Regions from separate parts of the Homo sapiens genome. Here all the other regions are reported to be linked to region 1. The links are microRNA targets in miRTarBase. Many come from high-throughput screens and were not tested one by one. Region 1 holds a microRNA gene; each other region holds the end of a gene's coding sequence.
Evidence for each region. The annotated mature microRNA hsa-miR-7110-3p reads UCUCUCUCCCACUUCCCUGCAG and lies in region 1 at 3,150-3,171, opposite strand. An mRNA with a match to its seed (bases 2 to 7 or 8) in the 3' UTR can be bound and repressed. Matches are read on the target gene's strand: a 7mer-m8 pairs with bases 2 to 8, a 7mer-A1 pairs with bases 2 to 7 and ends in A, and an 8mer does both.

Region 2: miRTarBase lists PRLR as a target of hsa-miR-7110-3p. Seed matches in the 3' UTR shown: 7mer-A1 at 2,312-2,318 and 7mer-m8 at 2,313-2,319.
Region 3: miRTarBase lists LEAP2 as a target of hsa-miR-7110-3p. Seed matches in the 3' UTR shown: 7mer-A1 at 1,495-1,501.
Region 4: the mRNA of PALM is a reported target of hsa-miR-7110-3p. Seed matches in the 3' UTR shown: 8mer at 4,394-4,401.
Region 5: miRTarBase lists PLXNA4 as a target of hsa-miR-7110-3p. Seed matches in the 3' UTR shown: 8mer at 1,099-1,106.
Region 6: miRTarBase lists FAM83F as a target of hsa-miR-7110-3p. Seed matches in the 3' UTR shown: 7mer-m8 at 2,589-2,595.

What each region holds. Positions count from the first base shown.
Region 1 is chr3:123,159,942-123,165,028 of GRCh38, reverse strand. MIR7110 (microRNA 7110) reads right to left here and starts at 3,235; the gene lies at 3,150-3,235. It overlaps PDIA5 (protein disulfide isomerase family A member 5), which reads right to left. Exons shown (of 17, transcript NM_006810.4): 16 at 3,574-3,708; 17 at 2,925-3,149. The coding sequence ends at 3,069.
Region 2 is chr5:35,061,054-35,066,053 of GRCh38, reverse strand. It overlaps PRLR (prolactin receptor), which reads left to right. Exons shown (of 10, transcript NM_000949.7): 10 at 1-5,000. The coding sequence ends at 965. Among named protein-coding and RNA genes, the nearest start is that of AGXT2, 16 kb to the right of the region's middle.
Region 3 is chr5:132,873,521-132,878,607 of GRCh38, forward strand. It overlaps LEAP2 (liver enriched antimicrobial peptide 2), which reads left to right and starts at 148. Exons shown (of 3, transcript NM_052971.3): 1 at 148-231; 2 at 430-569; 3 at 890-1,526. The coding sequence starts at 175. The coding sequence ends at 926. It overlaps AFF4 (ALF transcription elongation factor 4), which reads right to left. Exons shown (of 21, transcript NM_014423.4): 21 at 1,875-5,087.
Region 4 is chr19:746,357-751,443 of GRCh38, reverse strand. It overlaps PALM (paralemmin), which reads right to left. Exons shown (of 9, transcript NM_002579.3): 9 at 3,115-5,087. The coding sequence ends at 4,630. It overlaps MISP (mitotic spindle positioning), which reads right to left and starts at 332. Exons shown (of 5, transcript NM_173481.4): 1 at 273-332.
Region 5 is chr7:132,126,040-132,131,126 of GRCh38, forward strand. It overlaps PLXNA4 (plexin A4), which reads right to left. Exons shown (of 32, transcript NM_020911.2): 32 at 1-4,535. The coding sequence ends at 4,440. Among named protein-coding and RNA genes, the nearest start is that of PLXNA4-AS2, 130 kb to the right of the region's middle.
Region 6 is chr22:40,028,658-40,033,744 of GRCh38, forward strand. FAM83F (family with sequence similarity 83 member F) reads left to right here. Exons shown (of 5, transcript NM_138435.4): 5 at 859-5,087. The coding sequence ends at 908. Among named protein-coding and RNA genes, the nearest start is that of TNRC6B-DT, 13 kb to the right of the region's middle. RefSeq lists an enhancer at 2,064-2,583.

The DNA.
Region 1 (5,087 bases):
GTACCTTTAAAAATGATTAAAATGGTAAATTGTGTGCTATGTATATTTTACCACAATATAAAAAGGCATAGACATACACACCTTCACTCAGCTGCAGTAGCCAAATTTCAAGTACTCAATACTCATATGTGGCTAATGGCTATTGGATAACACTGGCCTAAAATAGAAGATTTTGGAGGTGACATATATTTGGTGGGACCATAAGCATAATTTGGTTTTGATAGATAGCTTAAGAATATCAGCTTCCTTCTTCTAGTCAACAATAAAAGAATGGGAAACAGTAAGAGCACAATGCACAGAGTTTGGTTCTGAGCACCAATGTGCACTCACTCTCAAACTGGGAGCCTCCTGCGGGCAGGGCTGGTGCCTGTGTTATTCCATGTGATGTGGGCAGGTGATGTAACCCCTGGACATAGGCTTTGCCTTCCTAAGAGGGCCTGATGCTTTCCAGATGAGATTCCACATCTTCTTACGTTGCGGTGGAGAAAACCAGCTTCTGAACCTGGAAGCATCACCTTCCCGTGCCCGGCGCAGAACAGCTCCTGGAAGCCAAACACCTCTAGAAGGGGAGGGAGCAGCATGAGGAAGGTAAGAGAGACAGGGTCCTGCTCGGAAGGCTCCAGTTAGGTGGTGATGGGGACTCACTGCTGGGCAAGGGGCACCAGAATAAAGATGGGGATCAGTTCTCCCCTAACTCACGTACTTCCTGCAGAGAAATCAGCCTGCAACGCAGGATCCAGGCGAACAGAGGAGGGTGATAGCAAGCCCTCCAGTGGGGCAGAGGGAGGAGGTCTGCACTAAACATCAGTGAAACCACAAAGAACCAAGCATGGTGACTGGGAGTAGAACTAACCCGGATGCCAGGGGGCGAGTGGAGGAAGAGAGTTCTGTCCGCAGGGGGAGCTGCCCAGAGCTGCGACGAAATTTGCTGAGGTCATGCCCAAAGTCAATAAATAGGGATGTGAAGAGGATTCCATTTCATGATGTGTTAAAAAATTTCTTTAAATCTATATTTGACAATATTTCATGTTTTTAAGTCTTCAAATAGAAGCTAAGCCAGGAAAATCTGAACTCTGAGGATGTGGAATGGCCAGAAAGTAAGCCCTGTGCCTCGCAGGTGGGCACTAGTGGTCCTCAGCCAGGAAGTGGCTCTTGTGAGATTATTATTGAAAAGGTGCAGTAAAAAAAACCCAAAAACAAACAAACAAAAAACTTTTTTGAAAAACACAAGCAAATATGTTCCCCCTACAAATACTCCAAATAACGAAGGAGACCCATGTCCAGACACACACATGCTAGAATGGTAAACACCTGTGTCAGGATTAAATGACACCTTGTAAGATGTTCATGGTCCCCAACAGGAAGGGACTCAATAATTGTGTTTCAATGATGTCTAAATGTATGCTTCTGTCTTTCATATCCAATCCTTGGGTGAAGTCCAGGGGCCACTGCCAAGGAAGTGGGTGCTTAGGGGAAAAGAGAAGAGCTGAACTGGCAGGAGGGTCAATTGGAAAGTTGGAGAACTGCACAGAACAAGGGCTCTCAAAACCTTGATTTCCCTTAATGAAACCACCCACAGTGGCACCATCGTCAAAACAGCTGTGAAGAACTTGGAGGCTCTGTCCTCCTCTCAGCAGATTCATCAGCAGGAAGGACTTAGGCCAGGAGGAAGGGAGCTGGGTCCAGGAAAGGAGGGCTGTTCCTGCAGGCCAAGTCCCCATCAAGGCCACCAGAGCGTGCTTCCAAGTACTGCAGCTTAAGCAACGCCCCCCTGAACTACTGGAGGAATCCAACTCTAGGACCGCTACTTATAACTAAAGACAAGATACTAGCACAAGGCCACTCTGCTGTCCATGGAGAAATACCACCAAGCAGACAAAACATGTTACTGCTGTGCTCAGGCTCTGCCTGCACCGCTGGGCACAGGGCTGGGGTGTCAGTCACGCAGGAATGCAGAAAGCAGGAGGACTCACCAGAAAGGTGGGTCAAAAAGGAGATGTACACAGGCAGGAGGCCGAGCAAGGCACCCATCCATGGAAAACGTGGCGTAAAGATTTGGGGTTATTATGGTTGGTGGTGGGGGCTGGTGAGCAGATCTAATATCTGCACCTCGAGAACACACCATCCCTTCCAGCCAGGGTGCACAGCAAGCAGCTGGCACAGAGCCCCCCTTCCCCCACTCCATTCATGCCCCTGAAGCGGCAACTTAATTTTCTTTAAAGGGAGATTGGGGAGGGAATGGAGAGACGAAGAGAAGACAAATAGCTGGAGAAAGATAAATACCTAAGTAAGTTCCAGGAAAACACACACAGAGGAAACACACCAATGCTGAAACCGCAATGATCCAGAAGAAGCTAGTGTTTGGTTACCATTTGCTTCAGCATCCCAATTTCCCTGATCATCTTTTGTTTTTTTCTTTCTTTTTCTTTTTCTATTTTTGAGACAGGTCTTGCTTTCTAGCTAGGCTGGAGTAGTCATGCGATCATAGATCATTGCAGCCTTGAACTCCTGGGCTCAAGAAATCTTCCCTTCCCAGCCTTACAAGTAGCTGGGACTATAGGCATGTACCCCTATGCCCAGCAACTTTATTTTCTGTAGACATGAGGTCTCATAATGTTTCCCAGGCTGGTCTTGAACACCTGGCTTCAAGTGATCCTCCCACCTCAGCCTCCCAAAGTCATTGATCATCTTGACGTATTTCCTCTCATTAGCTTGTCATTTTCCAGCAGGATATTCTGCGGTCCAGTTTCCCTGTTCTGCTCTCAAATGACTGACAGGGGGCCGACACCCTCAGGAGTCACCTCCATGCAGATGGGGCACTGGAGCACTGCTCTGTACCTCCCAGCAGAGGTGGTGGAATGAGGAGGATGTGAGTATCCACCTTTTTTAGTACAGGCTCCACGAAAATAAACCATACCACCAAATAAATGGTTTAATTTTATTTCAAAATTGTACAAAATGGCCATAAGCGGCTATAAAAAATTTGTCTTCAGAACATGTGGAAATTCAGAAACAACAAAACAGGTATCATTCACAGTGTAATGGAAAAGCTTTTTCTGAGGCAGGAATTATAACTCTTCCTTCTTTTTCCCTAGTCTTTCATGGTCTCCCTCCCGGAGGGCTCGAATATAATTGGTAAATCCCAATTCCTGCAGGGAAGTGGGAGAGAGAGAGAGAGAAAGAGCTTTAATCCCTGAGCTGGCTGTGCACTCTCTCTCCCCACACCCCCAGCCCCTCCAGGGGGTCACTCCTATGACAGGGAGAGGTGGGCAGACTTCTGCAAGGTGGAGAGGGTCTGCGTGGCTTGCACCAGCCCCGACCAGCAAGTGAGAAAACCCTCGGCATCTGGAGTCCAGCCTGCCTCTGGGGACAGGACATCTGTGGCAACCCCTTGGGACTCTCCTCCAACAATGTCAAGCCTCAGCCAGGCCCAGGGCCTGGGCCTCTCGGTGCAGTGTTCCAGCTGACTTCTGCAGTTTCTGGGATGCTGCCCAGTGCTGCCCCTCCTCAGTGGAAGTTTCCCTGCCCATCAGCAGAGAGAGAGCTCTGGGCAGACGCCTCTCCCCCACTTACTGTGCGGTCGCTGTCATACTTTTCTGCGAACTTCCCATAGTGGTAGTAGTGGAAAGTGGGGTAGCCCTTGACCGCCTCCTGCTGGCACAGGTCTTGGTTCTTGTCTTTGACACAGTCAACAGCGGCACAGGCAATCTAGGAGCCAAGGTAAAGAGAGTTGGCACAGGGTGTCCCCAGGCTGAGGCCTGGACCCCACAACACAGATTGCACATCTAGTCCACGTCACAGGCCCACTCTGATTTTTCTCCTCAGTGGCAGGTAGGAACTGAACCAAAGCACCCCCAGCTCAGGACTCCTTGGAGACTGATGGTGCTTGTTTTCAATTTCCAGATGGGTAAGGTTAGGGGACTCGGCCTGGAGTGCCTTTAGACTGTCCTTTAAAATCAAGAGTATGATGATCGTAAAGGAAATGATGACTTGAAAGCATTTGTAAACACCACAGGTTCTGTGGTGCTATCTGTAAGGGACTGTAGGATTTAATCATTTCTCCACTAATATTTCCGGAACATTAGCTTGGGGGGACAGTATAGTGCCAAGGTTAAGGGCAAGAGCTTTCAAGTCAAGTTCCCCAAGTGCACTCTTGGTTTGCCTGGACAGTAAGACTTAAGGAAAATAACTCAGCCTCTTGGTGCCTCATTTTTTTCAGCTGTAAAATGGGGATAATAATAGTATCTAGGCTATCAGGATATTGTGAAGACTGAATAAGAGAATTCCAGTGAGGCCAGTGAGCACAGAACCTGGCACCAGATTCATGGTCAGGAAATGTCAGCTGCTATTACAGTCACTTCTTCCAACCCCATATACAAGCTCTGTCCCCACTTAGGGGCTCAGTGTCTGGGCAGGGGTTGGATAAAGGGACAATTCCAACATGATGTGATGTGAGGGATGAGGGAGGTGGTCCAGGTGCCAGGTGAGTGGGGCAAAGGCGCTCTGTATGATTCGCCATCTGAGCCAAGACTGGAAGAGGAGGAGACCAGGGAAGCACATCTGGAAACTGGAGGAGCCCCGCATGAGTAAAGCCATCAGAATGTTTGGTCAGAAAGTGGTTCCCACATTGGCCACTGGCCTCTTCTTGACCATCTAGCAAATTCCACATGCTGGGTAGCTTTTCCTCATCATTTGTTGTTTTTTCAAAGGAAGACAGTATAAAGCAGAAATGGGGAACTTGTTTCCGGTTGAGGGTCATGCACCAGGGAAGCCCGAGAAGGGGTCCTCAATGGCCATACCCAGTACAGAGGTGTTATGGAAGATGGGGCAGATTCCCATGAGAATGAGTCCTCCTACCAGGCAACACACACTGAAACCCTGCCGTGTGCCAAGCCTGTTCTAGATGCTGGGGGACAACGTCGACCTTGACAAAGTCCAGTTATCAAGCGTCTGCTGTATGACAAATTAGATCATTTTAGATAGAGCTCAATGAATGCTTGGAAGAAATTAAAAGAGGGTGATTCAATAAGATAATTTAAAATTATTGAATAACCATGATTCACACAGTTCTTTGGTTGATGGTTATT
Region 2 (5,000 bases), not on the chromosome of region 1:
CTCCCACTTCTGACTATGAGGACTTGCTGGTGGAGTATTTAGAAGTAGATGATAGTGAGGACCAGCATCTAATGTCAGTCCATTCAAAAGAACACCCAAGTCAAGGTATGAAACCCACATACCTGGATCCTGACACTGACTCAGGCCGGGGGAGCTGTGACAGCCCTTCCCTTTTGTCTGAAAAGTGTGAGGAACCCCAGGCCAATCCCTCCACATTCTATGATCCTGAGGTCATTGAGAAGCCAGAGAATCCTGAAACAACCCACACCTGGGACCCCCAGTGCATAAGCATGGAAGGCAAAATCCCCTATTTTCATGCTGGTGGATCCAAATGTTCAACATGGCCCTTACCACAGCCCAGCCAGCACAACCCCAGATCCTCTTACCACAATATTACTGATGTGTGTGAGCTGGCTGTGGGCCCTGCAGGTGCACCGGCCACTCTGTTGAATGAAGCAGGTAAAGATGCTTTAAAATCCTCTCAAACCATTAAGTCTAGAGAAGAGGGAAAGGCAACCCAGCAGAGGGAGGTAGAAAGCTTCCATTCTGAGACTGACCAGGATACGCCCTGGCTGCTGCCCCAGGAGAAAACCCCCTTTGGCTCCGCTAAACCCTTGGATTATGTGGAGATTCACAAGGTCAACAAAGATGGTGCATTATCATTGCTACCAAAACAGAGAGAGAACAGCGGCAAGCCCAAGAAGCCCGGGACTCCTGAGAACAATAAGGAGTATGCCAAGGTGTCCGGGGTCATGGATAACAACATCCTGGTGTTGGTGCCAGATCCACATGCTAAAAACGTGGCTTGCTTTGAAGAATCAGCCAAAGAGGCCCCACCATCACTTGAACAGAATCAAGCTGAGAAAGCCCTGGCCAACTTCACTGCAACATCAAGCAAGTGCAGGCTCCAGCTGGGTGGTTTGGATTACCTGGATCCCGCATGTTTTACACACTCCTTTCACTGATAGCTTGACTAATGGAATGATTGGTTAAAATGTGATTTTTCTTCAGGTAACACTACAGAGTACGTGAAATGCTCAAGAATGTAGTCAGACTGACACTACTAAAGCTCCCAGCTCCTTTCATGCTCCATTTTTAACCACTTGCCTCTTTCTCCAGCAGCTGATTCCAGAACAAATCATTATGTTTCCTAACTGTGATTTGTAGATTTACTTTTTGCTGTTAGTTATAAAACTATGTGTTCAATGAAATAAAAGCACACTGCTTAGTATTCTTGAGGGACAATGCCAATAGGTATATCCTCTGGAAAAGGCTTTCATGATTTGGCATGGGACAGACGGAAATGAAATTGTCAAAATTGTTTACCATAGAAAGATGACAAAAGAAAATTTTCCACATAGGAAAATGCCATGAAAATTGCTTTTGAAAAACAACTGCATAACCTTTACACTCCTCGTCCATTTTATTAGGATTACCCAAATATAACCATTTAAAGAAAGAATGCATTCCAGAACAAATTGTTTACATAAGTTCCTATACCTTACTGACACATTGCTGATATGCAAGTAAGAAATAATGCCTCCAATTTTTTCTTAAAATAGTTTAGATATGTTAAGCATGGATTTTCCCCCTAAATTCTACTCTAAAGCTTCTATAAAATATAGTTTGGAAATAAAAATGTTCTTACACAAGGGGCAAATGAATTTCATGTGAATCCCTTTAGGATGTTTTCCTCCTTCATTTCAGCATGATAGATAATTTATTATACACCTTAGTCTTTCCTTAGTTAAAAAAAAATTCCCTAAAGACTAACTTGAAAAGAAAACCACAGCAGGATGCTAATGGAATTACTGCCTTACTGTACATACAAATTCTACTTTAATATAAACCCATAAGTTTAACTGTATTTTTGAAGACTATTTTTCTATGACTTAGGTAAAATAAAAGACTATTTTCTATTTTCCCAGTACAGCTGTTTATGTATTCAGTGGGTACAGTATTTTCTGCTGCAAGGTTATAATGTGTATTTACAGTACATAGTAGTATATAAAGTTCCCGTTTGTGGAGTAAAATGCCATACCAACCCAAAGCCCACTGTGAAATATGAAGTGAATGACAAAATTCAGTTTTCAACGCAATATAGTATAGTTTATCTGATTCTTTTGATCTCCAGGACACTTTAAACAACTGCTACCACCACCACCAACCTAGGGATTTAGGATTCTCCACAGACCAGAAATTATTTCTCCTTTGAGTTTCAGGCTCCTCTGGGACTCCTGTTCATCAATGGGTGAATCTTCCTAAAGCTACCATAAAAAGGGAGGGCGACGATTTCTAACAGCTGTTTAAAAGAGAGAGGTTTTGCTTTTGTGAGAAATCTTGGGCCACAAAAAAATTTTAAGCAAAGCCAGGAGTTAGTGTCTCTCTGAAGTAAATTCAATTGCAAAATCTTGGCAGAGGCAGAAATGGCTCATATCAGAAGTGTCCAAATAAAAGTTCTGGGAAACTAGGTATTTGCTTCCCAGAGCAATGGGAATAGCTCCAAAGGTCAGAGTAAGGTAATGAGAATCTCCCGGTCAATTCCAGTGCCAGGCTTCCTGAAAGAAGTCAAAGCTTGGATCCTCATTTTAAAGGGCGCATCCATGACTCATCTAGCAGCCCCTCTCTATTTTTCCCTTCACTTGATGGTAAATCCATTCTATATGTCCATTTACTAGCTGGACATAGAGAACTTGAGCTCACCTCTGGGAGTTAAATATTCCACCCCAACTATCCCATATTGATAGCAACTGGACTCAGAGGTCCCCCTCCTGTTTGAAAGTGAACACATTGCCAATGTTTTGAGAATGGCAAAAGCAATAGATACGAAGCTCCATTTTTCTAATATATAAACAATATCATGTGAGTAAGGGAAGCGTGTGGGAAAGTTGTCCAAGCTCATTCAGTCCCCTAAATCCTCGATACTTTAACTGTCTGAGAACCAACTGCATAGGCATCACCTGGGCAGTGTTTGAAAATTCCATTTGCAGAATCTTAAGCATCAGAATCTGCATTTTACTAAGATCCCCAAATGATTCAATTGCACACTGAAGTTTGAGAAGCATTGTTCTAGACAACCATTTCCACTAAAGGTTATTTTAGTTCATAGTAACAATCCTCTTTTGGAAAGGACAGATCAAGTCTGTTTGACTTGCAATGAACAACACTGCATGTAAGCAGGCAAAAAAAGAAACATATCAGTAGTTTAAGATTCACATTATGCTGAATCTTATATGAATTCACATAAAAGAATGACCTGCAAAACTACGCACAACTTCTGAAAGGCCAAGGAATATAATCTACCTTGAGAGACATTAACCAAAGACAGTCACCCTCAAAGCCAATGCAGACTAAATCTTTCCTAACATAGTCTATTCTCTAAGAATAGAGAAGATATGTATCAGTCACTCTTATAGTCTGAAAACCTAAACATAAAAGTAATCTGCTTTTGACATATAATTTTGTATAATACGTATGAAAAAATGTGACAGCTAAGGACTTGAATTAAATCCCTAAAAAACAATTAGCCACTCATTAGGCCAAGACTTTAATTCTATGATCAATTAGCACTGTTTATCTGAATTAAGCTTTTTTGTGGTCTAACAAAAAGTTTTTTTGTGGTCTATCAAGGAGACAGCTGTTCAAATGGAAGGATACATGTGGGGCAGGGGGGCGGTGAAGAGACCTAGATTCTGGTCCTAACTGCTTTGCCTTGGAGAGATTAATTCCCCCCTCTAAGCCTCAGTTTCCTCTGAAGATGTTGGACCAGATAACCTCTAAGGTCCTTTGAAACTGACTCCTTGATTCCATGACTCACTGAATATTTTTCTGCAAAGATAATCCCAACCAATGCCTTCTATCCTAATCTAACAAAAAATTGCTCTTCATCATAGAAATACAAAGTAATCTTCAGTGATGTGCTCTTTATACTTTGCTTTTTAAACCGTCCATTCCAGTTGGTCTTAATATATTGCACAAGTATTTTATAAGTGAAATGTGTACAGAATCATATTCTAAGATTATGTGCAAATATATGTGTAGAAAGAGGCATTTAAAAAAAGAGGCAGGAGATTGAGAAGAGACATATTGAATGAGGCACTAATCTTTAGAAAAATGATCTTTTACTGAATCAAGCCATGCTCATTCCTTGCTGAATCCAACAGCCCCAAATCTCTTTTCTTATATTTGGCTGTTAATTTTTTTCCTTGCACCATCCTAGATTGTTAACAACCATTGCACAGTTGGCTCATGTATCCTTACACTCTGAGTTATAATAAGTTGTATTTTTATAAACAAATACCTAAATATTCAAGTTTTAAGGCGCATGGAAACTGAATCTAGGCAACGGGTGATTTGTGTAGCTTACAACCTGAACAGCAAGATGTTCCAATTCATTCTAACAGATGTGTATAAGCACAAGTTATATCAGCTGTGTCAGATATTTAACAGATCCTACATTTATTAGCTATATAACAGACTCTACATTTTCCTAAGTGCCTAAGACCAATCCTGGTAGTCACTTAAGTACAAAAGACTCACTTTAACTGGCTTGGTCTGAAGGGGTCAATCCTTTACTGCCTGTACAAGATCTGGGCAGTTTTGCTCTGTGTCTTGTGATGACCCAGCTGAATGTGAAAAGCCTATGAGTTATTGAGCAACCAGAGGTCCCTGCATTCCAAGTTGCAGTTTAGCTCTGGGGAAACTCTGGCTTTCTCTTTCCTCAAGTGTCCACCACTGCCCATCATTTGCAGAAAGACTTGGCCCTGCCTTTAGCAACTTCCCTATCTCCTTAGAGTAGACAAGAAAGAAACAGATTTGTGCACATTTTACAAAGTGCCTTCCTCTATTTTTTTTTAAAGTTTTCATTTTGCAAGGAAAAATGTATTGATTAGAAAGTAACATTTGCCTTATAGGGATTATATATATATATAGATATAGATATAGATATGTATGAATGGAGAGATGAGAAGAAGCCAGAAAGGGCACAACAAAATGGTCTA
Region 3 (5,087 bases), not on the chromosome of region 1:
GTGGCCCTTGAGCACATTCCTCCGGTAGACATTAACTTATTAAATTGATTCTGATTACAAATATAAACTTTGCCCCCATCTCACCCAGTAACAATGCAAGAGTTGATGTCAGTCTATAAAAGGAAGTAGGAACTGTCCCTGGCTTTCAGGCTCCAACATCCTCCCCCTGTCAAGATGTGGCACCTCAAACTTTGTGCAGTCCTCATGATCTTCCTGTTGCTGTTGGGCCAGGTAAGGAGGGAAGGATACTTATGTGTGTGTGTGGAGTGTGGAGATGATAGTGGTGGTGGAACTTGAAAGCTAGATTCAGTCCTGAGGAATGGTTCCTCTGTTCTGAGTCTACAGCATCTGCGGAATGGAATGATCACTCTTCCAAGGTGTGCAGCAGGGTGTCAACACTTTCATATCTGAATGTCTTTGCCCTTACAGATAGATGGCTCCCCAATACCAGAAGTGAGTTCGGCAAAGAGAAGGCCACGGAGAATGACCCCATTTTGGAGAGGGGTTTCCCTCAGGCCTATTGGAGCCTCCTGCCGGGATGATTCTGAGTGTATCACAAGGCTATGCAGGTACTCCCTGAACCTGGGAGCAGGGTTGGGCCAGAGAGCCCTGGGAAGCTGGGCAGAGGAGTGACAAGGGGACACATGAACCTAAGAATAAAGCTGGGATGGAGGAGTTCTAGACTGAGACTGGGAGCTCCATGGAAAATCCCTTAGGAGTTAGGAGCCAAGAACAGCTCTATGTGGGTACCATGAAAGAGTGGTGCCTTTCCATTCTTCAGTCTTTCCTGAGACTGGACAGATCAAGCAAAGAGGAAGGAAATGCAGCATAGGTGGCCCTGGTCATTCCTAGACCCAGTCTTAAAAAACTACCCTTTCTTTTCCCCTAGAAAAAGACGCTGTTCCTTAAGTGTGGCCCAGGAATGATGTACATACCAGGGAAAGAAAGGACAGCAGTCACCTCCGACAATGCTCCGTTCTATGGAATATTGATTAACTGCATTTTGGCTGGAGACACCCAAGTGAAGCAATCTTGTATTTTTAATATTTAAAGGCAGATGTACGCTTTAAATTGGTCTCCATTTCTTCTTAGAATGTTGATATATGGATAAGCATAACTAAACTTGTCAATTTAGAGTTTATTTTTCTATGGATACTATTAAATGTCTCAAATTGAAATTTTAGCAGTCTGGAATTCAAGCTTTTGAGGGAAAGAAGGATTCATTTTGTATACTAAAGAAAAAAACAGCATTGCCCAATAATGTGTTAACTTCTCAATCTGGAAAGTGTAGTGAGAGCTACATAATCAATAGCTACGTAATCAACTTCAGCAAGTTCCTAAGCTGTGGCCCTGGATCCCTTCACTCCATACTCTTCAGGGAGGTGTCAAAGGTGGTCAAGCTTGGGAGGCTGAGGCAGGAGAATCACTTGAACCTGGGAGGTGGAGGTTGCAGTGAGCCAAGATCATGCCACTGCACCCCAGCCTGGGTGACATAGAGAGACTCTGTCTCAAAAAAAAAAAAAAAAAAAAAAGATGGTCAAGCACTTGCCATCTAATGAAGCACCCAGGTTTGTCTATGGCTGTCTGAAGATAAGGCAGAACAGAGAGAAAAATCTAGTTTAATAAAGCAATGAAAGCCCAAGCCACCAAAAGCACCAAAAGAGATTTAAGATTTCTGTTGGGACAAGGTGAATTTTGACATATGCACAAGGACCCATGGCCAGCAAGTTCAGAATTTCTGTAATCAGAAAATGAGACCTCAGCTGGTGGGAACAGACTTTTAAAGAGTAGTAACGGACCTTAAGACACAAAACAGGAATTGCATGAAAAGGGCTCAGAGTTGAAGAAATATAAAGAGTACAGTGTTCAGTAACTTTAATACAGAAAATCTATTTGATATTTATTAAACTTAGTTTCTCCAACTATGGTTTGGCATTGTACAAAGCATCTTAATGACACAGTAGAGTTAAAAAGATCTTTACAAATTGAAATGTGATACCCTTGTCTCCAAATATTTTAATTGCCATAAATTTGTTTAAAAATACACATTAAACGCATGTTTGACACTCTAAACTTTCTATACTCTCAATACCACAAAATACATATAATATACTATACAGATGTGGAAAAATCTAGTTAGTATATAATACTTTGCTCACCATTAACAGCTTTATCGTGTGAAATGCACATACTGACTTAGAAATCCTAGCTTTTGAGCCCCAAAGTACCTCTGAAATTGTAATGTATTGCAACAAATAAAAATCACAGTATATAATTGAAATTCTGGTTGAAAATGTCAGATGCCTAAATATTTTGGATAAAAGAAATGTAAAACAAAGATTTGGTTCATGTACAAAACAAAGGCATCCTTATCAGTCACTAACAGTACCTTTCTGCAAAATCAACAGGCTTTTAATTTATCAGTGACATTATCTCCCCTCCAAAACCCTCCCCAAATATCAAACAATTATATACCAAATAATTTTAATTTCAAATAAAAGGATTTTCAATAAATATATAAGCATTTCCATCCTCCATATACAAAATTTCTTAAAACCATTCAAAACGGAGGCTAGATAGAAATTTTCATAACTGTGCTTACCAACCCCACAACTGGCCCTTAAAGGTGGTGCCTTTTCAGGCAATGTCAACTGGCCAGTTCTGTTGGTGAGCCCCCTACCCCCACCCCACCCATCCCAGTACTGTTGAATGCTCATGTTAATGATTTGCCAGGTGTGTGCATAAAGTTGTAAAATGGGGACACTTCTGGAACACCAACAACAAACTCAACAATATGGATGATCATGGCATTGATTTGAAAGGCAGCATTTCCAAATTGATATTTTCCAGAGAGGAACATAGCAGGTAGAAAATTCCAATGGTTAAAAGCTGAAAAGAAGTCCCACATGGAAGCAGTAAGAGGTCAAAACTGAGTATCACTAGAGTTTCTGGGTGGGAGCTTTTTTATTTTTAAGAATGGCAAGTTATGTTTAGCTGAGTAACAGTGGCAAGGAGAGGTCAATGCTGACATTCCTGAAAGTCAACTTCTTTACATGATGACTACTTAGGCTGCTATTTTAGGATACTTAAAGATCTCTAAGACTTGGATTAGACTTAACTTGAATACCTTATTCTGTGACCAAATTACATGAAAAGAAGATACATAGTTATTATTTCCATTCCCTTTTCTGGAGACAGCAAGTTCTTTCTAATTAACCATAGGGTTCATGTGAATAGGAGCTTTGTAAGACCAGCATCCACTTTACAGACTATTAATAATTTACTTTTTGTCACTTGCTAACTTGGTTTTGGGGTCTAGAGGTCTAAAGTGAATTTCTCCATTAGCGAGTATCTGAAAGACATGCTCACAAACATGAAAAATTTGGCCTCTTCTCACTACATATTCCAAGGTATTCAATAATTATCTCTTCTATTAGTTTTACTGAATAGCAACCTTAGATGTACAGTATTATTACTGGAAAAAAAGCCTGCCTCTTCAATACATTAATGCATAAAGCTGAAATGAAATTTATGTTCCATGTATTAGGGGATATACAGGTATGATAGGTGTCTATATGGGTTTGAAATGCTCTGTCTCCCCAAGTTACTTAGGTTTTTTAAAAAACATCATCACAAGCTGCCTAACAGTCATCCCCAGTAGATGTTCCTGGGACCCAGACACAAACTCCTATAAATCAAAATATATAATGAGGCCATACTGTTCAATTAGCAACTGGAAAATTAAAATCTTTCCCACCCTGTAAGAGCCCTACGACACTACAGAAGGGCTCAAATACATTTTAAAAGTTAATTTACTACAAATCATAGTAATTAAGCTTTAACAATCTAAAGGAATACACATTGCACCCTTGAACATTAATATTCAAGGTGTCAACAAGAAAGTGTCTTAGATCAATTTAATAAATAATGTGGAAATAGTTGCACTAAGCTAAAATACTAAACACACACATATTTGACAAACTAATTTCATGTTTTCATACATACATACATATATATAAAGTGTGTATGTGTACAGAATTTTAAGATCCAAAGTTGCATACCCTTACACCTAGAAGAGTGCACAGTGTACTCCTCCTCTATATAACTAGGCATCACTGACTGGAACAATCACTGGCTGCTCTGAAACTCCAGAGTACTGGCCTCTAGAGCCAGAACTTTCATTTATAACAAGTGCCTTTTGTAGGCTCTTGCTTCAGAATGCAAGCTCATTCATGAAGAAATGTACCAACGTTTCTGTCATTAAATACAAAATTATGCTGTCTGATCTGTCTGATTAAACCTTTAATGAAAAGAAACGAACAACAATTTTTTAAAAACTAGTGAATCTAATAAAGCCAAGTGTGTCATTCAAAGTGCAGCCCAAGTGCCTATGAATCCGCCACTGCCAGAGCTCCCAGAAACACAGGTGTCTGTGGGCTCACGCACACTGCTCTCAATTGTTTTTACACTAGAGAATTAAATAAATGGTGGTCAACCTTCTCCACTCTTCGGCAGCTGTAGCTGTAAGTTTATCTGAAGTACTCACTGCATATAAAGTCACTTCTTGGCTACTTGCCCAGAAAAAGGTGGCACTGAGGCAAGGAATGGGCTGGATGCTCTCTAGCCAGACTGGAGCCTGGGCTGAGCTGTGGAAACTCCCCTGAAGGGGAATGCTTCCCACAGCCCAGCCCAGTCTGGCCCAGGCAAGACTACTGTGACAACTGCAACCACTGCAATTGGTTCGTTGGTTGCTTGTAAAGAGTCTAATGGTGTATAGGCTGCTGCCTCCTGGCATACAAGTGTAGTCATAAAGAGCAGTCAACAGAGTAACTGTTTAAAATAGTTGTTGTTTCTATAATTAACCATATACTAAGTACAAGTCTCAGACTAAGTTTTTAGCCACTTGTCAAATTCAGTTTTAAATGCTTAGAAAACACTGAGGACACCTATTGAGGAGGGAGGGGGGAAGGTCACCTGTAAAGGAGTCCAAAGTATGTGCTGGAGCAGATGATGACAAAGACAGAACATCTAAGAAGATAGACATGGAGGAAAGGGAGTAGTATTTCCACACACTATGACATTGAAAA
Region 4 (5,087 bases), not on the chromosome of region 1:
CAAAAGCCCCAGCAGAGTTCAGGGACAAGGGCCTCTCTGCTCTCCCAGTGGGTGCCCTTGAGGCCCCAGAGTACCTAGCGGGGGCAGAGGGAAAGGTGCCTCAGGGAGGCTCCGAGGGTGACGGGGTGGGGCAGGGGGCCTCCCTGGATCCCAAGTGCCGCCAGGCAAGCAGACCCCGCCCACAGACACATGACGCTCCCACGCCAAATGTGGATCCAACCGCCCCACACAGGATCCCCGCCCGGCCCGGCCCGGGGCGCCCCCAGCCTCACCTGCCGGCTCCCGGCTCCACAGTCTGCAGCCTCCACTCTGACTCCTCGATGGGCACAGAGGCCTCCCAGCTCCGCCCTGCCCGCCAGGTTGCCAGGGAACAGAGGCCCCACCCAGGGGAGGCAGGTGTGCCCCCTCCCCCCAGCCCCACCTGGGATCAGGAAACAAAGTCCAGAGGAGGAGGAGGGAGAAAGAGGATACCAGGCTGGGCAAGGGCGGGCACCGTGCCCGCTGCCGGCTGCCCCTCCACCCCCAGGGCCTCCAGGTGGCCCCGAGGAGCCAGAACTCAGCCGAAACCTCCCTTGGCTGCCTGGCCCTCCCACCGCCTCTCAGCACCGCTCAGAGAGGGTCAGCAGGTGTCCAGGGCCACACAGCAGCTCAGCGTGCACAGTGGCCTGTGTCTCCTGGGGGGCCGGAGGGGCTGAGTCCCAATCCCGTCCGTGCCTTCTGGCCCAGCCCACCCCTTGGGGCAACTCCCCTAGATGGCCCCCTTCTTGCATAAACCAGGTTTGGCAGACTCGGGGGGGTTTGGTGTGGCCTGGGTTCTGATCCCACCTGACCTCTCTTAGCCCTGTTTTCTCCTCCGGGACGTGGGGGAACATCACGCCCGGGCTCCCTCAGGGCTGCTGGGAGGAATTCCCTAGGCCCCATCCACATAAAAACCCATACGAGGGGGCCGGACTTGGTGGCTCACACCTGTAATCCCAGCACTTTGGGAGGCCGAGGCGGGCGGATCACTTGAGGCCAGGAGTTCGAGACCAGCCTGGCCAACATGGCGAAACCCCGTCTCTACTAAAAATACAAAATTTAGCGGGGTATGGTGGCACGCTATTATAATCCCAGCTACTTGGGAGGCTGAGGCAGAAGAATCACTTGAACCCAGGAGTTGGAGGTTGCAGTGAGCCGAGATCACACCACTGCACTCCAGCCTGGGCGACAAGAGCAAAACTCCAACTCAAAAAAAAAAAAAAAAAAAAAAAAAAAAGAACCGCACGAGGCCGTCAAAAGACCCAGGCCACCCCGAGAGATGGGGACGCAGAGGCCCTCAGGCGCCCATGGTCCTCCTGGATTCTTAGTCAAGGTGCAGAGGCCTTGCTGGGACTGTGGGGAGCCCAGCATCTGTGGGGAAGTCGGGCCACTGGGCCTAGCGCCGTCTATGAGGGCAGGGAACACAGCTGAGGGGGCAGGGACTTCAGTTCCCCAGGCTGGGGCTCTGTCCTGACCTACGCCAGAGGGGCTGCTTGTGGAGCCCCTCTGAACCTCAGTCTCTTCTTCGAGTAAAAAGGCCCCCAGCTACGAATCCAGCAGGGCTGCTCAGGAGGGGGGTGCTTTTTTTGTGTTTTTTTTTTGAGACGGAGTCTCGCTCTTGTCACCCAGGCTGGAGTGCAGTGGCACGATCTCGGCTCACGGCAACCTCCCCTGTTCAAGCAATTCTCCTGCCTCAGCTTCCCTAGTAGCTGGGATTACTGGCATGAGCCACCACGCCCAGCTATTTTTGTATTTTTAGTAGAGACAGGGTTTTGCCACGTTAGCCAGGCTGGTCTCGAACTCCTGACCTCAGGTGATGCCCCCGCCTCAGCCTCCCAAAGTGCTGGGATTACAGGCGCGAGCCACGGCGCCTGGCCAAGATGGGGGTGTTTAAGGACAAATCTGGATAAAGGGCCCCCAAAGGACAGCGTGGCACCTAACGCTGCTGGGTGTGTGAAAGCTCAGGGTGCGCGGCCTCACGGCGCCTCCCACCGCCGCCTCCCGCCACCCCCTTCACGTCCTTTTCTCCCTGGCTTGTAGATAGGGAAACGGAGGTACGGAAAGCTTAAAATCGCGCCTCAGGAATGGCGGGGGTTTAGGCTGGAATTGGAACCTGAGTTCCCTCAGCAGTGCTCTCCACCACACTCACCACCTCATCGGGGAAAACTGAGGCCCCAGCAGGGTGGAGGCTGGATCGCCCATGAGCTGGGGGCACTGTGGAGACGTCCCACGCCCAGGCTGAGGCTGGCCTCCCACTCAGGGCTCCGAAGGCCTATTTTATTTTATTTGAGACAGAGTCTCGCTCTGTCGCCCAGGTTGGAGTGCAGTGGCACGATCTCAGCTCACTGCAGCCTCCGCCTCCCAGGTTCAAGCGATTCTCCTGCCTCAGCCTCCTGAATAGCTAGGATTACAGGCGTGAGCCACCACGCCCGGCTAAGTTTTTGTATTTTTAGTAGAGACAGGGTTTCAGTATGTTGGCCAGGATGGTATCGATCTCTTGACCTTGTGATCCGCCCACCTCGGCCTCCCAAAGTACTAGGATTGCAGGTGTGAAACACCGTGCCCGGCCACGAAGGCTTATTTTACAGATGGGAAAACTGAGGCCCAGAGGAGGCAGCGACTTCTCCAAGACTACAGCGTGAGAGAGTGGGGCTGGCGGGGCAGCACCTTCCCGTGAGCATGACACTGGTCTCTACAGACACCTCCTCCCCAGGCCTCCTGTGTATTTCCCAGGGGCCGGCTTCTCTACAGAGCTTGTGGGTGTCCAGGGGACCCTCTGTCATCACCCAGGGGCTGTGAGCCCAGCAAAGGGAGGAACAAAGGACAGGACGGGGCGGCCGCAGAACCCGAGGGCCCCCCGGGAAGCCAGTCCTGCCCCCCCACAGCAGCCCCTTACAGCCAGGCCTTACCTGCACAGTGGGGATTCCAGCGCCTCCCACCACCCCAAGGCGCTCAGGGTGAGCGGGTGCAGGCAGGTGAAGCCAGCACACCGCAACCCTGCTCAGCCTCCCTTTAATGGCTCAAAGGCCGGCAGGCCCCACCCCCTGGCCTGGCCACGCCTTCCTCGCCAGGTTGAAAGGCAAGAACTCCAGGAACTGGGGCTGTTCACGCTGTTTATTTGCTTCTCTGGGAAAATCAAGAACATCGGGGGCCTCGTCACACACCAGAAGCAGAGGGGGTTATAGCAAGGGCACTTCAGCGAAGGCTCGCGGCTCGAGGGACTCAGGCAGACTCCAGGGAGGAGGAGGGGGTTCCACGGCTGACGCCCAGGTCACCCCCGAGAGGGCCTCTCCTCCCAGCCACCCAGGGGCAGAGCGGAGGCAGGGACCCAGGCTCCCATCCGAGGTGGCCCCTGTACCTGCCCTGCCGAGGCTGCAGGTGGTGACTGGACCAGGAGGTGGCCTGAGCACTGGGCACCAGGCTGGAGGTCCCTAGGGCAGGGACCAAGTTGGGGCCTGGTTGTCCAAAGCCAACGTGTGAGACGGTGTCTGTGAGAATGTGCACGAATGTGCCTCTGGGGACGAGTGTAGCTGCCCCCAGGAGGGAAGCCCCTTGCCACTTCCAATGAGAGGGGGCTGGGGGCAGGCTCACATTGGTCTGGGTGGCAAATGAGGGTCTCCTGCTCCAACCCAAGAGGCTTCCTGTCCCAGGCTGTGTCCCTCCCTCCACTGCCCGGACGTGCTCCAAGCCCAGTAGAGCTGGCAGGTGGGGCCTGATCTCGGGGTATGGTTGGGAAGACCCAGGACCCTGGTCCAAGCAGGATGGAGAAGAGGCCGGGGGCGGCCCCTGGGGTCCCCAAATTAGCACCAGGAGGAAGGAGGGCCCAGTGGGGGCGGGAGCTCGGGACAAGGAGTGGCTCACTCGGTCCCTGCCCTGTGCAGGGGGCAGGTCAATGACCCCTGGTTCGCCCCGTCTAGAAGATAGCCCAGGGGTTACCGGCCCCTCCCGGGTGGGGGCATGTCCCCGGGGTTCCCCCTCCCCCAGACTCCATTGTCCACTGGTTGGGCCCACACAGGGCATAGGGGCACAGCAGAGGGGCCTGTCCTCCACCCAAGACCTTTAGCCCCCAAAGAGGCACGGCCTCACCCCAACTGCCTGAGATTGGGGGGCCAGCGCCTTGGCCAGGGAACCCCATAGAGCCTCACTTCCAGGGCCTGAGCAGGCCTCAGTACCCACCCCCGGCTCCCGGGGCCCTCTCTGGCGGGGTGTCCCCTCAGAGAAAGGCACAGGTAGGAGGCCCAGAGGGTGGCAGGCTGGCCTGGGCCGCGTGGAGGCTGCGGGTCCCACCCGCCAGGACCCCGGTGGGCGCGAGCCGCGTCTGTGAAGCTGCCGTGACATGGGGGGTCCTTGTCTCGGGAAAAGCGGGTCTGTCCTGTCTCTCTCCTACCAGGCACAAGTGCACGGCTCTGGTTCGGGGGGAGTGTTGGGGCGTGGTGACGGGTGGGGGCCCCTGTCCCTCTTTCCAGCGAAAGAAAACTCGGAAGGAACATGTAACAACACGCCAAGTCCTGGACCCGTGAGGCTGTGGGTGGAGGGTGGGCAGGCGCCGGGAGGGGCCGGGCTGGTGGGTGTCTGTGGTGTGGGGTGGGGGCCGGGGTCTCGGGGGCCGGCTCACATGATGGAGCAGCATTTACAACGGTGCTTCTTCATGTCGAGGTCCTGGGGGTCGCTGGTGGTGGCCTCGGGCCCCGCCTGATTCTCTTCCCTGGAGGCGGCCTCCGTGGGAGGCTCGGCAGCACTGCCGTTGGGTGGTGCAGGCTCCTTGGGCTCAGCCGCGTCTTCGATGACCACCAGCTCCGCCGTGATGGTATCTTGAAGGCCCAGCACCTTCTTGGTCTCGGCCTCATCCTCCACGTTCTGGTAACCCATGAAGATCATTGTGACCGGGGGCTCCTGGCCGGGCTGGATCCCCGGCGGGCCGGACGTGGCCTCGCCTGGCTGTGCCTGCACACCGGTGATCTCCCGCCGGGAGGGCGTGGTCCGGGCTGCCCCCTCCACAGCCCCCCGGGTCTCTGCCGCCCCGGCCGTGGACCCTGCCTCGCTCAGCGTGACCTCGTCCGCTTTGTGGA
Region 5 (5,087 bases), not on the chromosome of region 1:
CTTTGCTCGGTTAAGTATTTGACTTCACATTACTGTGTCCCCTTGGTCCTGGGAAAGAAGACAGATGGAAATTGAGCTTTTCTTTTTAGGTCACAGAGGGTGGTGCTGAGACCTGGGCCCATCACAGCATCGTTCACGGCTCTGGAAACAGTGGTAAGGATTCTTCTTGCAGTGGAGGTCATTTGGGAAGTCATTGCTTGTGGATCCTCGGATGGGGACCCATAGGGCCTTGGCTAGACGAGGGAGCTCCTACAGCCAGGAAGGCAGCTTTGGGTGGGGTAGGATGGGGCTGGGGCAGTCACAGAGGGCTGGGCTGAGAGGTCTGAGCAGCTCCTGTACTCAAGTGGATAAATCGCCCTGGGACAGAGGCTATGTGTGCAGGAGAGACACGGTGGAATGAGGAGGGACAGGGAGGATGCTCGTGGCAGGAGGAGCACAGGCAGAAGCCAGACATGCAACGGGAGACACGGTACCAGGGACCTGGTTGCATGGGGGAGGTGGAGATGCTGGGCCAGTACATCAACCTTCACTGCTGGTGGGCGCAGGTAGCTGGGCCTGAGGGGACCAGGTCAGAGACTTTTCCTGTGGGTAACTCCTGCTTCTTCCTGGGAACAGTCCTGGACAGTCTGCCTCAAACTTTGGGATTTATTTAAAATAACTTCTCTTTCACTTGTAGCTCCTCACAAGCAGCCAAGCTCACTTACCAGGCTGCGGGTGCACAAGGGGTAGGCTTTAGGGGCTGGCTTTGGGTGCAGGGATCATGCTGCCATTGGAATGTACCTTGGCCTGTGGGACACTTGGGTTATCCACTGTTCCCAAATTTAAAACCATACTGAAAGAAGAAGGCAAGAAAATATTTTCCTGAGGAAGTAACTGGCATGATGGCCACCTTCACTTAGTGGCACTATTTGCAGCTACCAAGAAATGTCAGGGTCTCTCCTTATGGGGAAGGACAAAGAATGGGTAAAAGCTGCATCTGGGGGGACTTGTGGCCAGGAGAAATGACCAGCCTACCACTCTGTTTCTTGTCTTCCTCTACTTATTCCTTAAAATTTAGGACCCCACAAAGCCCCCTTCTTCCCTGCTACCTTAAGCCCTTCTCTCTCCAACATGCAAAAAAAATTCCCACCTAAACTTTGTCAGTGATTTTGATGGCTCAGTCTGGTACCATTTTCCCTGGGAGGGTACGGGATAAGTTGGAGGGGAAGGTAAGGAAGATGGCCTTTTCTCTCCTTCTGTCTGCTCATGACTCAACATAATGGTGACCCTACAAATTAACTTTGCCTCGAGGGAGGCCGTGAAGGGGCCTCCATCCCACAGGACAAAGTTGGCCCAATTCCTTTCTCTGGGAGCCCGCAAGCCACATGGACAGCCCCTGGATGTTTGCTCTGCCAGTGGGGTAAGGAAGATCCCTGGGGGAGTTTGGAAAAAAGATTTGGGTGGGGGATGGGGGGCAAGGACAGCTTTTTGACAATGTTGCTTGTCTTTGCTTTTAAATACCATATCACACGTGCACCAAGAATCCAAACGGAAGAAATGGAAAACAAACAGCAGAAGATAATTTTTATAAGCAAGATGGGCTGTGGCTCTGGATACCTGGCTCAAATTTCTCAGTCCCCAAGCAGGCCACGGGGACTGCAGCAAACAGAGCGGCAGAAACAACCCACCCACCAATTAAAGTCAAACCAGCCCCAAACCCCTCCCCCAGGAGAAATGGGGACAGCCAGAAAATTTGTCTGTCCTTGTCTCCTCTTTCTTCCTAACCTTTCTATTTCTCTGAGGTGTTTGAAATTTTTCTTATAACAAAAACATGGAATAAAATAAAGTCCTGTACCGCCAAAGTAACAATAACAATAATCATCATCCAGTAAAAAATAAAAGCTTCAGCAGAACCGTGATAAGTCTTTTTTCTTTTTTTTTTCTGCTTGTTTGATTTTTTCTCTTAACTGTGCAAAAAAAAAAAAAAAAAATCAAAATGCACTCACTCATACACACGTTCACACACGCAGCTTCCATCCAGCAAATCTGTGTTAAATACGTTTGTGTCTCTTTCCTCCCCAACCCTTTATATGTGCAAAAATATTGTAGTGACCGAGGTACTTCCTCAGACCGTCTCCCACATGTACCCTTTCTGGCCTTCCAGGTCCTGTGACTGACTTCTTGGGAGGGAATAAAATGATCAAGGATAGAAAAGTCAAGCTTCTCCACCTGGTACTGCACTTGCCAAAACCTTTGGTTATTTATTTTTTTTCTTCCTCTTCCAATGCATTGTTTCCCATTTTCCTCTTCCCATTAGGTTGCTCATGTCTTTTCCACCATCTGTCCTCTGCGATGTCACATGATGCCCTGTTCCAAGGTCCAGGCCTCGGCAGGCGACCACCCTGATTTCCTATGGACAAGCGCCCTCTCCTTCCACCCACCAGCTCTCAGCATAGAAAGCAAGTAAGTGTTGAAATGTCCTGAAGCTGCAGGATGAATGGATGAGCAAGGGGAAAGAGAAGGGGAACACTTCAAAAATCCTCCTACAAAGGACAAGAAATCCTTTTGAGCTTTCCGCCTACACCTGGGGCAGACACACACACACACATACATGTGCTCACACACATGTGCACATATTCATATCCAAAGGGGCAAGTGTTCTTAAAAGTACCGGATGCTCCATGGACTTTGCTGGAAATGGTGTGGTTTCTTCCCCAAGGGGGGCTCATTCTGAGTGGGTGACAAGGAATGATGTCTGATGTTTGGGGAGTGAAGGCAAGACTGTGAATCCTTCTCCTCAACCTCACCTAAGATGTTTCTCCTTGTCTCCCATAGTGGTGAACAACTCCAGAGCAGAGGTGCCAACAGAGACTCCTGCTTAGGATGGGAGACTGCACCAGACAGCACCTAAGGTCTCCTTAGGATGAAAGGTTCCTAGAACCCTCCATTAGACCATCTCTCCCCATAGCCTCTGCTTACCTAGTATCAATTTCTAGGCACACATTTGCCTGCCTGGCTAAAATCGTGCATCTGTAGATGTAAGAACAGATGGGGAGATGGATGCCAAGGCCAAGGTCATTTGTATGTCCCTCTTCTTAATTCCAGCCAGGCCCATCAGCTCGACTCTTTGTCCCTCCCAGATCTGACAAGCTGGAGGCTGAGGTTGGCTGGCATTTTGGGCTGTCTCCGTGAGGCTTTGCTTAAGTCTGTTTCTTTCAAGGATGACTGCTGAAGAGATGAGGAAGGAGAATGATGAGAGACAGCTGAGATGTTGATGAAATCATTCCCAAAGAGGTCTGGACAGCCCAGTGACAAAGTCATCTGCATAGCAATGGCACCGGATTCTGCAGAGGGAACAGGGACTAGGCTGTTGGCCCCAGCCGTCTATGGAGTTCTCAGGAAGGATGATGGGGATGGAGCCATGGAGATGGCTGGAGGTAGAATCTCCTAGATGCACTCTGCATTTCACGTTGACCCTTGATGAAGGTTGACAAAGGAGGGTGGAGATAGATGCTTTCTCTTGACAGCACTCAGGGCTCTGGTAGTGGACTAGACCTATGACTATGATTGTGACTCATTTGAATTTGAGGGTAAATGGAAAACAAATTCTGCTTCCAGGGTAGATGCAACTCTCTTTCCTTTTCTCCCCCTGTGTTACATTTCTGCTACTAGGATTCAGATGAAAAGGTCAGGAGCATCTCCATGGTGGAATGTAATTGCTATTCTTTCTCCTGCCTGGCTTTCTACTGGCGGGGGAGCAGGCAGGGCAGGCAGGTCCCTCTGGAGACCTGGAAAAGGACAGGAAGCCTCTGGACACCAGCCCAGTGGGGGAGAAGGAGCCTCAAGGAGCACCTCCCAGCTGCCCACACATGCCCTGCTCCAGCCACATGCAGGAGGTGTAGCCTTTCTTCTCACAGCTGCAAAGCGATCAGACCACTGGCTGAACCACTGGAGATGGAACTGTGGGAAGGGAGAGCCAGGTGATGTCTTCCCAGTAAAGATAATACTGAAGTCCTTCCTTGCCTCTTCCCTAGGCCAAGGCTCAGACCAAAGCAGGGGCTGCCAAAGTGGAAGGTGAAGTAGCAGCACAGAAATGTCCCCTGTCCCTGGCTCCTCATTCGTTATTTGCACCCTGCTGCTGACATGCACAGGGTCAGGAGCACCTGGGAGACAGAGGCCTCTCTGACATCTTCTGGTCAGCTCCCTTGCCATGGGCCTGGCCATTCTTGGACTAACTGAGGGTCAGTGGCTTGGTCCAATCGTGTTGGCAGAGCAACTGGAAGAGAAGAGATCCAGGAAGGAGGGAGAAACGGAAAGAGGCAGAGAGAAAGAGAGAGAAACAGCGCTGCTCAGGGGATGCTGCTGATGCCAGTCGGAACTTGCACTTGGTAAAGATGATAATCTAGACTGAGGCACGGCTTGGTGTGTCCCCCTCCAGGGCGGCCCTGGAAGGACGGTTCTCAGCTGTCTAAGCTCATGAGGGTTATGACTTGTTCTAGTTTGTAGGCCAGTTTCTGCTTCCCACACTGGTCATCGTGGTCCAGAGGTCCAAGGATCTGCGGAAGGGCCAAGAACAGGGAGATTACTCATTTGTGTGTACAGGTCTGTGTTCTCAGGAGGCACAAAGATGGTGTGGATGTGGTCAGAAGCCCGGGAAGCCACAGGCATGTGCAGGGGCACACAGGACACTGCGGGGTAGGAGGAGACCTGGGGAGCATGGGCAGGAAGTTGTGGCAGGCATAGCATGTGAGCATCAGCATGGCAGTGAGCACAGGATGCCAGCACACACAGTCATGTCTGAATGACTGTGTGCATTCTACTGGCTACAAAAGATGGTAGACAGAGGGCAGAAGCTCTGCTGAAAGTGCCTGTGCCGAGATGCTGCAGTTACCTGCAGGTTAGACAGCAGCTAGTTCCATATCCGATGGAAATGCGTAGTGCTCAGCATGGAGCCGGAATGTGATTTCATGGATGTTAAGACATCCCACCCTTCCTCCCGCAGAAATAAAAATCCATCAGCTCCTTGAGGCCCCAAATTCTACATTTAGAAAGTCATTTGTTTTCACTTTGCCTGTTAAAAAACAAATGTCCCTAGAAGAGTAAGACTA
Region 6 (5,087 bases), not on the chromosome of region 1:
AGTGGGAAGGAATGGTAGAGGCCTGGGGAAGAAGAGAAATCAGCTTCTCTGGCCGGGGGCGGGGGACAGCTTTCTCTCCCCCTTCCCTCCCTACAGGCAGCGCGTTCCTCTCTGTCCTCCCTTCAAAGGCGCGTCCTAAGCAGTGTGATCCACCCCACGGTGGCAGCTCTTGGCCAGCGCCAGCCTTTCCTGAGGCGCCAGCTTTCCTTCTTCCAGCCTAGGCGGCCTGTGGCGGAAGGAGCTGGAACTGGACCGGGAAGGCCAGGTTCTGGCACTGTCGCTGGCTGGCTCTGGGAGCTGTGGGCACCTCAGCGGTAGAATGCGGCAGCCCGGGAGGGGAACCAGAGAGAAGGACCGCAGTCTTACTTTGCAGGCGGTGGAGCTGCATGTACTAGCTGGTAGTGAGCGGCCTCTTGGCTAGACGTGTGTGTGTGTGTGTGTGTGTGTGTGTGTGTGTGTGTGTGTGTGTGTGTGTGAAAGCAAGTTTATTAGAAAAGTAAAGAAACAAAAGAATGGCTAGTCTGTAGACAGAGCAGCCAAGACTTTGGACTTGATGGTTGTTGTCATTGATTCTGCAGCCTGGATCCTTCCCCGACCCCTCTTTGGTCAGGAGATGGCTGTCACCTTGATGTCCCACCCAGTGGGGCTCCTGCCGAGGCTGCTGAGACAGGCAGAATCTTCCCTTCTACTTTCCCGGGTGCCCTATTGACTTGGTTTCCAGATCAGCAGCTTGGGAGGGAGACAGTGACCCCAGCCCCTCAACTGGAGATGTGGACAGCACACAGGGTAGGAACTGAAGCTGAATCCACCAAGCGTTTCACTTACATCCTTCCCCGCCTCTGTCCCTTGCCTCTGCAGGTAAAACAAGTCCCAGTTCTGCCAAGCCTAGCAACTGTGTGATTTCCTGAGCTGCGGGATGGTGGTGGGCAGGACGTGTGGATGCCTGCCTGCCCTGCCCTGTGCTGTGGAGAGCGCAGGTCGCACACTGCACCAGTTTGCACATCAGACGCCAACTGGCCTTCTGCCCTGCAGCCTCCGTCCTGGCCTCAGGGACGCTGGATCCCAAATGAGAGGGTCCGAAGCATCTCAGTCACACGCCTCCACCGGACTGTCGGTGGCTGGGCAGGGGTCAGTGCCACGGCCTCCTTGTTTACATGAAGTGGAAGCTTGACCAGTGTCTGCTCGCCTTTGTGCCCCACCCCCTCCGCTGATTGCCAGATGGGGTGAGGGCCCATTCTTTAAACCTTTATGGGGTGGGGTGTCTGGGGCAGCTGCAGTGGCTTCTCCTTTCCCAGGCTTCCTGGTGCTTCTGGTTCCCCACGCCACTCCCCACCCAAGAGATTGGTGGAATAAAAGGGAAGAGGGCAGGGCCCTGAGCCTGGGATCCCAAGTTCCAGTCTTTCTCTAGCCTCTGAACTCCAGATGTAAGGTGCAGCTGGAACTGCAGGGGCACTGGCTGCAGTGGCCTTCCTGGCCCCATCCCTGCAGGCTCCTGAACTAGACTTGAATGAGGGTAAGATCCTGCGGCCTCCCGCAGTGGGGGCAGAATTTGACACTGCTTTTCTGAGAGCGCTCGCACTGAGGTCTCTTTTTCCCTGCCCAGTGCCGTCCTGGCAGTCTCGGCATGGGTGGTTGAGACCTCCTTGGCTGCTGCCTGCTGCGGGCCTATGTGGGGGTCCTTACAGGGCCTTTACCTGGGACTGCTCCTTCCCTCAGTCAGTAAACTTTGGTTTACAGCCCAAGGCAGGGAGGGAGCTTGGCTGAGAGGGGATTGGGGGTGTGGGAGGCTGGGCCCTGAGGACAGGAGCATTTGCCTTTTCTCCCTCAACTCTAACGGGGTCCTCGGACCCCTTCACCAACCAGGGCTTCCAGGTTACACTTTGGCCAGACTGGCCTTTGCCTCCTGCGAGAGTCAGGCCATTTTTAGGAGCCTGTGCCTCGCCAGAGCAGGTCAGCCTAATGGCCATGAGGCTGAGCTGGGAGGCCCAGTAAGCAATTCCATTCTGCCTTCCCCACTTGGGTGACTGGAGAGGGCCGAGGAGAGTTTGTGAATGGACCTGGGAGAAATTGCCAAACTGCAGACTCTGTGAGCCGGCCCTGCCGGCAGGGCGATGGGGGATCCAAGCCCTGTGGAAGAGCCATGCAGCGGACTTTCTTGCCCTCTGACCTCTGAACCAAACTCTCATCCTCTTTCTTTCCTTCTAAAAAACCCTAGGACACTACCAGCACCTGGGGGAGGGGTACAGATGTCTGCAAGGCAGCTGATGTGAGAGCAAGAAAAGGGGCTGCTCTGGCTGGGCTGTGGGAGCCAGGCATTGCTTCTGAGGAAGCAGGAAGTGGGGACCACATGTGGCGGCCATTGAGGAGATGCAATCTCTCTGGCAGTGGGGAGGGGAAGGGAAAGGAAGGGTGAGCCTGTCCCCAGGGTCTTCTCTGTTAATCCCAAGGCTGGCTTCTAGGGCGTGTGGAGAAGGGACTCTGGCCCACCTCCCTGAGCTTTTATGAAGGTGAAATGCTTCTGGGAAGTGTTTCCTTAGGCACCAAGACCAGGCAGTGTGGCATGAGCTCATTCTGGAGGGGAGGGAAGGGAGAGAGGGGGGAGGTGGGATGTGGGGGTGTTACACCTCAGCTCGAGGCGGACACCTTGAAGGTATGGGACATGAAATGTGTAAACTGCAACGCGGCAAAGAGATCACTCTCTGGTGTGGAGGGTGGGTGTCTCTGGGGATTAGGGAGGCAGCCTGGGGAAGGGACCGGCCTCCAAGCAAGTCAGCCAAGGGCATCTGTGCCTCCCCTGCCAGAAGAGCAGGCCCTGCTTTGTCCCTTTACCTCCTCTAGGCCCAAAGCACACCCAGGTCCCTCCCCTGCCCTGACATCTAATCTGGGAGGATCCCTGATTGGAATCTCCAAGTCACCACAGCCTTGAGCCAGGCCTTCCTTTCTGCCTCAGTTTCTCCATGTGCCAAGATGGCGTTTTTCACACTTTCTTGGTAGAAATGATGGGGAGACCATATGTTAGGAAGCAAGTTGGCATAGTGGGAAGAGGGCCAGCCACAAGGCAGGAGTGCCCAGGCAGGGTGCCTCTCCCTGCTGGCCTGTGTCCTCGTCCTTATAGCAGTGTGGACAAGATGGTGTCGGCACCCCCCGCTCCAAAAGGCTTGAGACAGAAACTGTAGTCCGAGATGGCAAGGATTTTGAACTCACAAAATGCAGCTCTTCATGTTTGCCTGTCTGCCTAGGCACCGGCCCACTCTGTTCTGCCTCTTGGCTTCTCAGCTGTGAGTACGCCTGCCCTCTGTTCCAGCACTTGCACATACTTTGTGAAGCAGTCTCTTACTCATCAAATCTCAAGGGTACATCTGGCCCTCCCAGTTGGATGGCAAGTTCAAGGGTGGATCATGCCCTTGGTCCCTGCACAGCAGCTTCTGCAAGGCTGGTTACATTGGAAGGGCTCTAGGAGGAACAGGATAAGGCAGCACTCTCGGGGCTGGGGTCTGGCTTCACTGCACCCCCCTCCCACCCCACACCACCACCAAGCTGCTGTCTTTCTGAGTCAGCTTCTGTAGGGTAAGTGTTCACAGCTGGTGCAGCTCTTTGGGAAACCTAACCTCCCAGTGAGCTGAGCCCCTGGTGCGGCCGCCACGCTTGCTTCTGCCCCACAAGGGCAGTAAGCACAGGACTTCTGGATGGATCTGGGAGCCTGCCCCTTGGGATTTGGCAAAACTTCCCATCTCCTTAGCTACCTGTCCTTAATCTTATCCCTGACCCCTCGAGGGCTTTCAAGATAGCCTCTGTTAACATCACTACCCTCTGCCTGTGTAGAACTTTATAGAAAGGCTAGGCAAAAAATGAGACCCAGAGATATGGAAGAAACTGGCCAAAGAGGGGAAAGTGGGCTATTTCTTTTTTTTTTTTCTTTTTTTTTTCTGAGACAGAGTCTCACCCTGTTGCCCAGGCTGGAGTGCAGTGACAGCGATCTTGGCTCACTGCAAGCTCCGCCTCCCGGGTTCACGCCATTCTTCTGCCTCAGCCTCCTGAGCAGCTATGACTACAGGTGCCCACCACCATGCCTGGCTAATTTTTTTATATTTTTATTAGAGACAGGGTTTCACCATGTTAGCCAGGTTGGTCTTGATCTCCTGACCTTGTGATCCGCCCGCCTTGGCCTCCCAAAGTGCTGGGATTACAGGCCACCGTACCCGGCCAGGCTATTTTTTTGTTTTGTTTTTGTTTACTACTGTATTGCTTTTCTCTTTTTCATATTTATTGAGCACCTACTATATGCCAGTCACCATGCTAGATGCTTTAGTAACATGAAGGTTTCAAACTAAGAAAAGCTCAACAAAGAGCCCTTTAGAAAGGTAACAGTTTTCCTGTGTATTGGGGGAGTGGGTCTCATAAGGTTGTATGATGAGAAGCGCAAGTAATTGTTTTGTTTTTTTTTTGAGACAATGTCTTGCTCTGTCGATCAGGCTGGAGTGCAGTGGCGTCATCTCAGCTCGCTACAACCTCCACCTCCTGGGTTTAAGTGATTCTCTGGCCTCAGCCTCCTGAGTAGCTGAGATTACAGGCACGCGCCACCACGCCCGGCTAATTTTTGTATTTTTAGTAGAGACAGGGTTTCACTATGTTGGTCAGGCTGATCTTGAACTCCCGGCCTCAGGTGATCTGCCTGCCTTGGCCTCCCAAACTGCTGGGATTACAGGCATGAGCCACCACGCCCAGCCTGGCTAAGGTTCATTATCCCCATCTTTCAGATGAGGAGGCACACAACTCTCCCCAGATCCCACGTCACAGAGAATGCAGGTCTGAGTCTGTTCCTTGAGCTCAGGGTCTTGGCAATGGTGATGCTTTGGAGCTGCAGAATCCTCTGTTGGGGATGGGGCTGCCCTGTGCATTATAGTACGTTTAGCAACATCCCTAGCTTCCACCTACTAAATGCCACTAGCACTCCTTCAGATGAGACCACCAAAAATGTCTCCAGATGTTACCACATGTCCCCTGGGGGGTAAAAGTGCCCCCGTTGAGAGCACTGGCTCTTTTCTTCACAGTCCTGACCTGGTGGCCTGCACAGGCCACTTCTCCGA